Linked DNA regions of Homo sapiens: regions 1 and 2 are each reported to be linked to region 3. The links are microRNA targets in miRTarBase. Many come from high-throughput screens and were not tested one by one. Region 3 holds a microRNA gene; each other region holds the end of a gene's coding sequence.

Region 1 (3,344 bases), not on the chromosome of region 3:
GAACACACAGTATTTTAAAATCACACTGTAGAATCCAAATGATGACCCACAGTTTGCAATTTTTCATTGGAGGAACCCTCAGATGCTTCTAAATTTCAATTAACATCCTGTCCTTTCTTTGCCTTTTAATGCTTATTATTTCTTGACTAGTTTTTATAAATATCGTATCAAAATTTTGATGACCAAGTCAGGTAAGTATACAGTTATCTTATGTATCTATGTGCAGTACATTTTAAACTATTTTATTTTGTTTCACTATTTTTCAGTACTTAAAAATAATAAAGATACAAATGTTAAGTCAATTACTTTTTACTCTGCTTAAACATTATTTTTATTTGTTTATTTGCAGGAAATCAGAGATGGTGGTTCTCTCAAAATGATTCACTTTGGTCTGGTGTAAACATTAAGAAAAAAAGAAAACTGCCTTCTTCATATCTAAACTTTTCATGGCCTGATACAGACTTAAAATCCCCCGTGTGGATTTTTAACAAGAGACAGTATGAATCATATAAATTAGTTAAGAGTTTTGAGTTGAGTGTTTGTTTTCAAAATAAAGTTTTATTATTTCAAAAACATGCAGCATAACAGCAAAGTGATCGTAAGTAAAAGTCTTCAACCTACTTATTTTCAATAATGTAAAATTTTGAAAGTGTCTTAAATTGTATGTTAATTAGGTGCTACAAAAATAGAATATTTAAACTTTGTTCTCCCAGGTACTTTAAAAAAGGGGCAGTAGGGGGCAGGCATAGTGCTCATGCCTGTAGTCCCAGTGCTTTAGGAGGCCAAGGCTGAAGGATCACTTGAGCCCAGGAGTTCAAGACTAGCCTGTGCAACATAGTGAAACGCTGTCTCTAGAAAAAATTTTAAAAATTAGCCAGGCATGGTGGTACATGCTTGTGAAGCTGAGGCAGAAGAATTGCTTGAGCCCAGGAGTTCAAGGCTACAGTGAGCTGTGATCGCGCCACTGCACTCTAACCTGGGCAACAGAGAGTGACCCTGTCTCCAAAAAAAAAAAAAAAAAAAAAGAAAGAAAAGAAAGAAAGAAAGTCCTCTTCTGCTCTTGTTTACATTATTAATTTACATTACAAATACAGTATTTATTATGCAAATTTTTCAGCCCAGATCCATTGTTAGAAGACAATTCTCCATGGTTCTCTCGAATTACTGCTATGAGTAATTTGCCCTGACTGCCCCTTAGAACACAGATACTGTTTCCCTCTGGAGAAAGGGGCAGGCATGCTTATCAACTTTTATATGAGATTTGAGTTCTTTAAACTCAGAATGCCTCTCCTTTACACTGCCCATTGAGTGTGCAGGTGTCATCTAGCCCTCTTAACATTGCTCTATAGGAATAGGGCTCAGAGAATCCATGAAGAAAAGAAAAAAATGCCGATACCCTGGTTACTATCATTTGTCTCTGACTCAGGAGTCTCATGTCTTCTAACAGCATCCATGAAACTATAGTGTGGTAACTTGTTAGCTAGTAAGTAGGGTAAAATCTCATACCCTTCACAGTTATTGACACCCATTCTTTAGCAGATAACTGATATTTCACAATTATAGACATCTATAGGCCAGGCACGGTGGCTCACGCCTGTAATCCCAGCACTTTGGGAGGCCAAGGCGGGCGAATCACGAGGTCAGGAGATGGAGACCATCCTAGACAACATGGTGAAACCCCGTCTCTACTAAAAATACAAAAAAAAAAAAAATTAGCCGGGCGTGGTGGCGTGCACCTGTAGTCCCAACTACTTGGGAGGCTGAAGCAGGAGAATGGCGTGAACCCGGAGGGCGGAGGCTGCAGTGAGCTGAGGTCGCACCATTACGCTCCAGCCTGGGTGACAAAGTAAGACTCCGTTGCAAAAAAAAAAAAAAAAAAAATTATAGACATCTATAATAATAATCAACATTGTTTAATATTAGACAATAATTACATTATATAATTAAATCTTAGAGTTCAAAGTTAATCAGACTGAAGGCTTTTATACTTCAAATTTTTCTTTCTACTTCCCATTTATCTGTACCTCTACCAGAGGGTATGACAAAAAAAGGTGAAACTCAAATTAGATTTTTCATTTTGTTATTGCTCTGAAAAAATTTTAATAATGCATAACATGTAAGCCAAACTGAGTTACCAGCAAATTTTCATTCTCCTATTCCCAACCTTCTTTATCACACAGATAATCAAAAGTTAACTAATTTTTAGAGAAAAAATTGTATTTAAAAAAATAGGGTTTTGTCAAGATTGCAGAATTTTCTCCAGATTTTCCGGGTAAATAGTCATTAACCCAAAATACCTTTCCTGTGAGATACTAAAGATAAAATATGGATATTGATACATCTATGTTTTTCTACATAATGATAATAATAATGAAAATGTTTGCCAGTTATGTAGGTGAAAATTAAACAAATCATAGTTCTTAAAGTACCCATTTTCCCCACTTCACATACCTCTAGAAAAGTTAAATGTACAGAAAACCAAGTTTAGATAGTAAGAATATATTATGAATGATCTTTGATAATGTCCATGATTTATAAATGCTGTTATTTCCCAGATGTTGTAAATCTGAGAATATTAATTAAATTGATATTCCTCCTCTGCTAGAACCTGAAAGGATTATGAAGGGGCTACCATAGCTCTAAAGTAAGAAGAGTGGTATAGGCAGGAACAGCTAGGTAGTATCTGTCCTAGCACTGACAGGTTCACAGGTTGTCCTTTAGGAATAGACCCATGAGCTTTTTCAACTATTTTCCAGATTTCTCAGATCTGAGGTAATTTCCACAGTAATTTATATTAGCTGTCACATTGTGTCTTATTGCTAGAATAAACTTTGCTTGGAATGCTAATGTCTAAAAGTTTTTGCTTCATTAAAAGGCTGTGTAACCAAAACTTGGTATTATACTTTCTTCTTAGTATCTTGAAATGTTTGTTAAGGAGTTATAATTATACCACTCTCTACTGAGAGTTTGATCAGTGCTACAACACACATAGCCCTGTACCTACATAGGGATTCTCAATGAAACTCAGTGAGGAAGATACATCATCATCATCATCCCTACTCTATCGATGAAGAAACCTGATGAGCCTTCTAGCACCAGGTGTCACCTAGAAAGGACAGAGGGGCCTGGCCTCCCCTCCCACAATGTGCCAAGTGGAGTTTGAGCTGGCCCACACTGCCCTCAAGCAGCTGAAGGGTACTGTGTGCGATCAGGAGAAAACTGCTGGTGTACAGCTTCTGCAAACAGCCCACCCAGAGCGACTGCAACATCCCTGCCCCTTCAGCCTCAGATGTGAAAGCCAAGGCCAAGTAGGAGGCATGGAATGTGAACAAAGGGATGTCTAA
Region 2 (3,000 bases), not on the chromosome of region 3:
GTCAGCTGCCATCAAAGCCTTTGACTTCGCATGACTTGAACCACTGAATCATTTTTTTTCTTTTTTTTTTTTTTTGACAGAGTCTCGCTCTGTCACCCAGGCTGGAGTGCAGTGGCACGATCTTGGCTCACTGCAACCTGCGCCTCTTGGGTTCAAGCAATTCTCATGCTTCAGCCTCCCAAGTAGCTGGGACTACAGGCACCCGCCACCACATCTGGCTAATTTTTGTATTTTTAGTAGAGACAGGATTTTGCCTTGCTGGCCAGGCTGGTCTTGAACTCCTGGCCTTAAGTGATCCACCTACCTCAGCCTCCCAAAGTGCTGGAATTACAGGTGTGAGCCACCACACCCGGCCTGAATTGTCTTTTATCTCAAGTTCCTTCATTGCTACTCAAAGTGTGCTCCACAACCCAGCACAGCCACATCATCGGAGAGCTTGCTAGAATGTTGGGCCCTATCTTAGACCTACTGAGTCAGACTCTGTATTTTAAGAAGGTGCCCACGTGACTCACGTCCACGCTAAAGTTTGAAAAATGCTGAGCTACTTCAACCTGGACTTTGTCACCTATAATAGAATTAAATCCCCTTCATCAGTTGCGACAACAGAAACCCCAACTCAAACTTCCCTAAATCATTAGGGTATCTTTGATTGGCCAGGTGCAATGGCCCACATCTGTAATTCTAGCACTTTGGGAGGCTGAAGCAGGGGCATCGCTTGAGGCCAGGAGTTTGAGAACAGCCCAAGTAACGTAGCAAGAGACCTCATCTTTACAAAAAGTTAAAAAAAAGAAAAGAAAAGAAAAGAAAAAGAAATTAGCTAGGTGGTAGCACGAGCCTATAGTCCTAGCTACTCAGGAGGCTGAGCTGGAGGATCCCTTGGGCCCAAGAGCTGGAAGGCTGCAGTGAGCTATGTTTGCACCACTGCACTCCAGCCTGGGCCAGAGCGAGACACTGTCTCTAACAAAAAAGGATATATTTTACTTAAGAAGCCCCATGGTAGAGCAGACTCGAGAGACTCAACTGAGCCAAGCAAAGATCCAGATTTTCTTCATCTCAGCTCTGTCATCCTCAGTGTGGACTTCATTATCACACCATACCAAGGTAATCATCAGCAGGTCTAGGCCTGATCATGTCTCTAGGCCTTCTTAGGAGTGATAGAATCTTTATTAGAAGCCTCCTAGGCCGGGCGCAGTGGCTTACGCTTGTGATCCCAGCACTTTAGGAGGCTGAGGCGAGCAGGTCACCTGAGGTCAGGAGTTTGAGACCAGCCTGGCCAACATGGTGAAACCCCGTCTCTACTAAAAATACAAAAATTTGCCAGGTGTGATGGCGCACACCTGTAATCCCAGCTACTCAGGTGACTGAGGTATGAAAATCACTTGAACCTGGGAGGTGGAGGTTGCAGTGAGCCGGGAACGTGCCATTGCATTCCAGCCTGGGTAACAGAGCAAGACTCAAAAAAAAAAAAAAAAAAGCTTCCTAGTTCTGAGCACAGTGGCTCACACCTGTAATCCCAGCACTTTGGGAGGCTGTGGCAGGAGGATTGCTTAAGCCGAGGAGTCCAAGACCAGCCTGAGTAACATAGCAAGACCCTGTTTCTACAAAAATATAAAAATAAAAAAGCCTCCCACCTCAACCTGAGCAGACTCGTTGACCAGGACTGGGTCACAGGCCCATTCTGTGGCCAGGACATTTGGCATGAGTCAGTCATTTGAAGGTAGAATCGACTCATGTCAAGAAGTTGCCACTGGGACGCACTGGTCCAGATGATGGAGGAGGAAGCTTGAGTTGCTATGGAGATGAATTCATTGTGGCTCCTCTATCCATCTGGCCCCAGGAGGCCTTGTCGGTAGAAAGAATGAAGGAACGCTGGACCATCTCAACTGTTCCCTGGATCTGGGACTCCCAACCAACCCCAGAAGCCAAGAACTCATCACGGAAACCAAAATAAGATTGTTTTATTCCAATCCTGAAGAACAATAGTCCAAACAATTCCCCTCCCCTGCTGGAGACTCTCCTGACCCCCAGTGCCCGCCCTCCCTCTCTCTTCAGAAGGCGATGGGGGTCGATGTCTCCAGGTCTTGGAGAAAAACCAAAACCACGCCCCTTGCATTTCGTCTCTACCCGTCTCCCACACATTTCTTTTGTCTCATCTCCGATTTTTCTTCCCCCTCCTACATCCCGTCCCTTCCTCTCCTGCTTCCCCCAGCTTTTCCTCATGTCTTCATTTCTGTCTCTTTGCTTGTCCTCTCTCCTCCATTTCCGGCTCCCCTTTCCATTTTTTCTCGCTTACCTCCTCTCCTTCATCTGTCTTCTGTACTTTCTCCCTTTCCCCTCTCCCCGCTGCACTCCCTAGACTGGCCAGTCTACTCTTGCCAGACACTCCCCATATGATCGCTTCCTCCCCCTCCCCCCAGCTCTGCCCCTTTCCTTCCTTCTGTCCCAGCCTGACCCTGTCTACACCTCTCATCACATGCTTCCTCTCCAGAGGGAAGCCCTCAGAATCCACCCTGCCCATCAACACCTTCCCAAGCTGTGGCTCCAGGACCTCAGAGACCACTTACAGCTTGCCCTTGGACCCAGAGAGGCAAACTGCCATGAGGAGGTCCCTGGATGACCCAGAAGGTGGCCAGGGGGACTGCAACGGTCTCCTTGGCCTCAGCCCTATTATCTTTGGGATCGAAGAATGCCCTCCGACCCTCCTGGTGGAGGGTGGTGGGCAGAGGCATGAAGGGTCAGGGCTCTGGGGCTCTCCCCCAGCAATCCCTGAGCAGGTCCATGTGGAATAAGGCAGCCCCAGTGAGGAGGCGCGCTGCAAAGAGGTGTCTGCAGGGCAGACGGCGGGCGGCGTGAATTGAGCAGCTGCAGCGTGTCAGGGCCCCATCCAGGAAGAAGTCCGAGGTGCCGTCCTTAAGGGCAAAGCCAGCTCCGGTCCAGTGGAAACCCCGGGTCCCATGCTGCCTAGCAAAGGCCAACTCCTCAGCCACCAGGTCTGCCAGC
Region 3 (3,344 bases):
CCCACTCGCACATGCCTGTGGGTCTAGCACTGTGAGGCCCTGGGGGCCGGGGTGGGTCTGCAGCACCCTGAGCTCCACCAGTCACTGCCAGATTCCACACCCCCCGGGACAAGCTTTCTGGGAAGCTTCCCCAGCAGCTCCCAGCCCATGCCAGGCCCTCCTCCTTGGGTTTGACTTTCCAGGCTTTCGGCTGCTTTTTGCCATCTCCCTGTCAGCAGATCATGGGGGCTGAGGGCTGTCCTCTCCCTTCCACCCACACATCCAAGTGCAGGACACAGCACCCACCAGGCTGGGGGAGGTGCACCCCAAAACACCCGAGGCCCAGGAATGAACCGGGCTGGTGGAGCCTGTGTGCCCAACCCCCTTGTACGACCTCACCCAGAAACTGCAGCTCTCCTGGCCCTCACCTTGCCCCAGGCTCTGGCAGGCCCTGCGGTAGCGGTCAGTCAACGGGGGCAGGTCCCACGAAGTCACCTCAGCCAACACCTGGAAGGCACCGTCATGAGCCACCTGGGGGCTCCCCCGGCTCACCTCATCATTGCTCTGCAGCCATGAGCCACCCGGGGGCTCCCGGTGCCTGAGGCCCTGGCTCCCCCTCCGCTCTGCGGCTCACCTCGTCATTGCTCTGCAGCACATCAGGGATGAGGTCCTGTGGGGCCAGCAGGGCCCCCTCTTTCCGTAGGGTGAGCCTGGGCAGCAGCCCGCAGGTCTGGTAGTAGCGCTGGGCCGCCTGCTCGGCCAGCCAGGCCACAGAGTGGGTGTCACTGCTGCAGGGACAGAGGCGCTGCTGCTGCTGCCTGCACACAGCCGGGGTAATGCCCCAGGGACCCGCCATCCCTGCCCAGGGCCAGAAGCCCCCTCAGCTGCTTCTCCCATTCCCAGGTAGCCGGCCCCTCCTCTCCCTGCAGCCCAGCACACCACCAGCCCCTCTGCTATTCCTGGGGGCCACAGGATCCTCCTGGAACACACCAGGGAGCCCTCGTCACACGCCCCACCCTGACATGCAAACACGAGCACCCTGGCATGGAGCTGCACAGGTGGGCTGCGGGGTAGGGCAGGCGATGCCTCACCTGTGTGGGACAGGGATGAGGAAGAGATGATCCTGAACTTGAACTCGAACCCGGATGGGAGGGGGCGGGGCCGGACCCTGGCAGGTGAAGGCAGCAGGGCTGAGTCAGGAGCCACAGTGGGCTCCACCCTACACCTGCCTGCCCGGAGTGGGGAGAGGGCTCTGCTCCAGGTCTGCATACCCACCAAGGGCTGGCCTGCCGCAGAGCTGTCCCCACTGGGCTCTGAGACCCTGGGGGTGCTGGGGCTCCCTGGAGGTTCTGAAGCCAGGCTGCTGGGCCCTGCGTTAACTGGCGCACTGCAACTCTGCATGCAGGTCAGGCGGACCTGCTTGGCTCGGGCACGGGGCCTGCTCTCCTCACTGTCCGACCCAGAGGTACTACTGGGCCTGCGGTTGTCTCCAGTGCCCCGGGGGCGGGGCCGGCGGCTGCGGGTCAGGGGCATGTCCAGCTCCAGCCAGTCCCCGGCCAGGCACTCCTCCTCCGGGATGAGCGCTGCCTGGGGGGCAAGGGCTTTGCTGTGGCCCCGCGGTGGGCCAGGCCCCAGCCGGCTCTGAGCACTGCCCACACCCCGGATGGCTGCCTGGTAGGCTGCCCGGCTGGTGCTGGCTGTGGCTGCTTCCCTGTTGCTGGCGGGGCCAGGCGTCCAGGCTGCCACCCGTTGTGCTGTGGCCGAGCACCGAGGCCTCTTCTGGGACGGCCGTGCGGGGCCTGCGCTGTCCTCGCCTTCTGAGCTGCTGCTGCTGCTGGCTGGCCCATGCCTGCTCCTCCGAGGCCTGGCCATGGCTGGTGCCGCCTGCCCTGGGGAGACCCTGACATGGGCCTGAGAGGCCTCTGGGAGTCTAGTGCTATTAGAGGGGGGTTCTGGGCAGGGGCTCAAAGGAGGAGAGGTCTCGGGGTCAAACAGAAGGCTGCTTGGGGTGTGGAAGGCCTGGGAGCTGTGGGGATCTGTGGGAGAGAGAATGCGTGTTGAGGCAGGGGCCCGGCACCTCCCGCTCCACCTGTGATGGAGCATCTCCCGAAATCAGGGCCCGGGGACTCTCAGCGTAGGCACAGCAACCCCAGGGACAAGGGACGCCCTGCTTGCCTTGGCCCGAGGCAGCCGCCTGGAGCAGCATCTCCATGGCCCTGGCCTTCTGCCGCGTCTCCAGGTCCAGGTCCCTGCGGTACAGCTTCACCCACTGCTGCAGCGTCTCCAGCGGGCTGAGGCCCTGTGTGGCATCAGTTGAGCAGGGGCACAGCAGCCCCCATAACCTCGCCCTTGCCCTCTGCCCCACCAGGCTCACCTTTCGAGTGCGGAGGGTGACGGACGCCCCCCGTTCAAGCAGCAGCTCAGCCACCTCGAAGTGGCCACAGTTGAGGGCATCGTGGAGGGGGGTGATGCCTTCGCAGCCCTGGCCACCTGGGTCGTCCACTGCGGCCCCGTGGTCCAGCAGGAAGCGGACAATTTCTGCAGACCAGGAGACGTAAGCCCAGCTCCCGATGCCCCGCCAGGACTGACTCTTCGCCCCACGTGTCCACCAAGGTGCGCCAGGCTCCTTCTGTCCCTTGCTCACCTAGATGCCCGTAGTTGCAGGCCTCGTGCAGAGGTGTCCAGCCACAGTAGTCCCGAGGGTTAAGGGGGTGGCCCTGTGACCAAGGACAGGAAGGAGCCTGGCCCTGTGTACCTCACAGCCTGGCCCCAGCCCCGTGAGCTCTGCAGCCTAAGCTGAGCCCAGGGCCTCAGTCTTAGAGCCCAGAGCAAGTCCGTGGCCCTGCCCTCTCCTCCTCCGGCCTAGGTGTCACCAGTGAAGGACATGCTTCCCCCTGAGACAGGTGGACCAGCCACAGCATATCCTCCGCCTCTGTGCCTGCCCGGTCCCCTTGTGGGGAGACAGTGCACCTGGTCGCAGGGGCATGAGGCAGGCGGGGCGGGAAGGTGCCCAGATCTCAGCCCATGGGCTAGCCCCCATCCTGGCCAGGCTGACCAACTTAGCTGTAACACAGATGCATACCACACAGCAGGTACCCCATTTTTTTTTTGAGACCAGCCAGGCTGGTCTCAAGCTCCTGACCTCGTGATCTGCCCACCTTGGCCTCCCAAAGTGCTGGGATTACAGGTATGAACCACCGCGCCCAGCCTGGGCACCCCATTTTTTTGTGTTTTTTTTTGAGACAGAGTCTCGCTCTGTCACCCAGGCTGGAGTGCAGCGGCGCAATCTCATCTCACCGCAACCTCCGCCTCCCAGGTTCAAGCGATTCTCCTGCCTCAGCCTCCCGAGTAGCTGGGACTACAGG

What was found. The annotated mature microRNA hsa-miR-6893-3p reads CCCUGCUGCCUUCACCUGCCAG and lies in region 3 at 1,148-1,169, opposite strand. An mRNA with a match to its seed (bases 2 to 7 or 8) in the 3' UTR can be bound and repressed. Matches are read on the target gene's strand: a 7mer-m8 pairs with bases 2 to 8, a 7mer-A1 pairs with bases 2 to 7 and ends in A, and an 8mer does both.
Region 1: miRTarBase lists WDPCP as a target of hsa-miR-6893-3p. Seed matches in the 3' UTR shown: 7mer-A1 at 1,765-1,771.
Region 2: miRTarBase lists ZSWIM9 as a target of hsa-miR-6893-3p. Seed matches in the 3' UTR shown: 7mer-A1 at 2,195-2,201 and 7mer-m8 at 2,002-2,008.

The regions. Positions count from the first base shown.
Region 1 is chr2:63,119,062-63,122,405 of GRCh38, reverse strand. WDPCP (WD repeat containing planar cell polarity effector) reads left to right here. Exons shown (of 18, transcript NM_015910.7): 18 at 350-2,847. The coding sequence ends at 400. It also overlaps the pseudogene DBIL5P2. Among named protein-coding and RNA genes, the nearest start is that of OTX1, 70 kb to the right of the region's middle.
Region 2 is chr19:48,196,563-48,199,562 of GRCh38, reverse strand. ZSWIM9 (zinc finger SWIM-type containing 9) reads right to left here. Exons shown (of 4, transcript NM_199341.4): 4 at 1,943-3,000. The coding sequence ends at 2,736. Among named protein-coding and RNA genes, the nearest start is that of ZSWIM9, 27 kb to the right of the region's middle. RefSeq lists an enhancer at 2,537-3,000.
Region 3 is chr8:144,434,404-144,437,747 of GRCh38, forward strand. It overlaps MIR6893 (microRNA 6893), which reads right to left and starts at 1,216; the gene lies at 1,148-1,216. It overlaps TONSL (tonsoku like, DNA repair protein), which reads right to left. Exons shown (of 26, transcript NM_013432.5): 14 at 2,624-2,696; 15 at 2,354-2,517; 16 at 2,155-2,278; 17 at 1,255-2,015; 18 at 1,071-1,147; 19 at 614-767; 20 at 408-486. It overlaps TONSL-AS1 (TONSL antisense RNA 1), which reads left to right and starts at 765. Exons shown (of 6, transcript NR_109770.1): 1 at 765-1,037; 2 at 2,348-2,592; 3 at 3,296-3,343.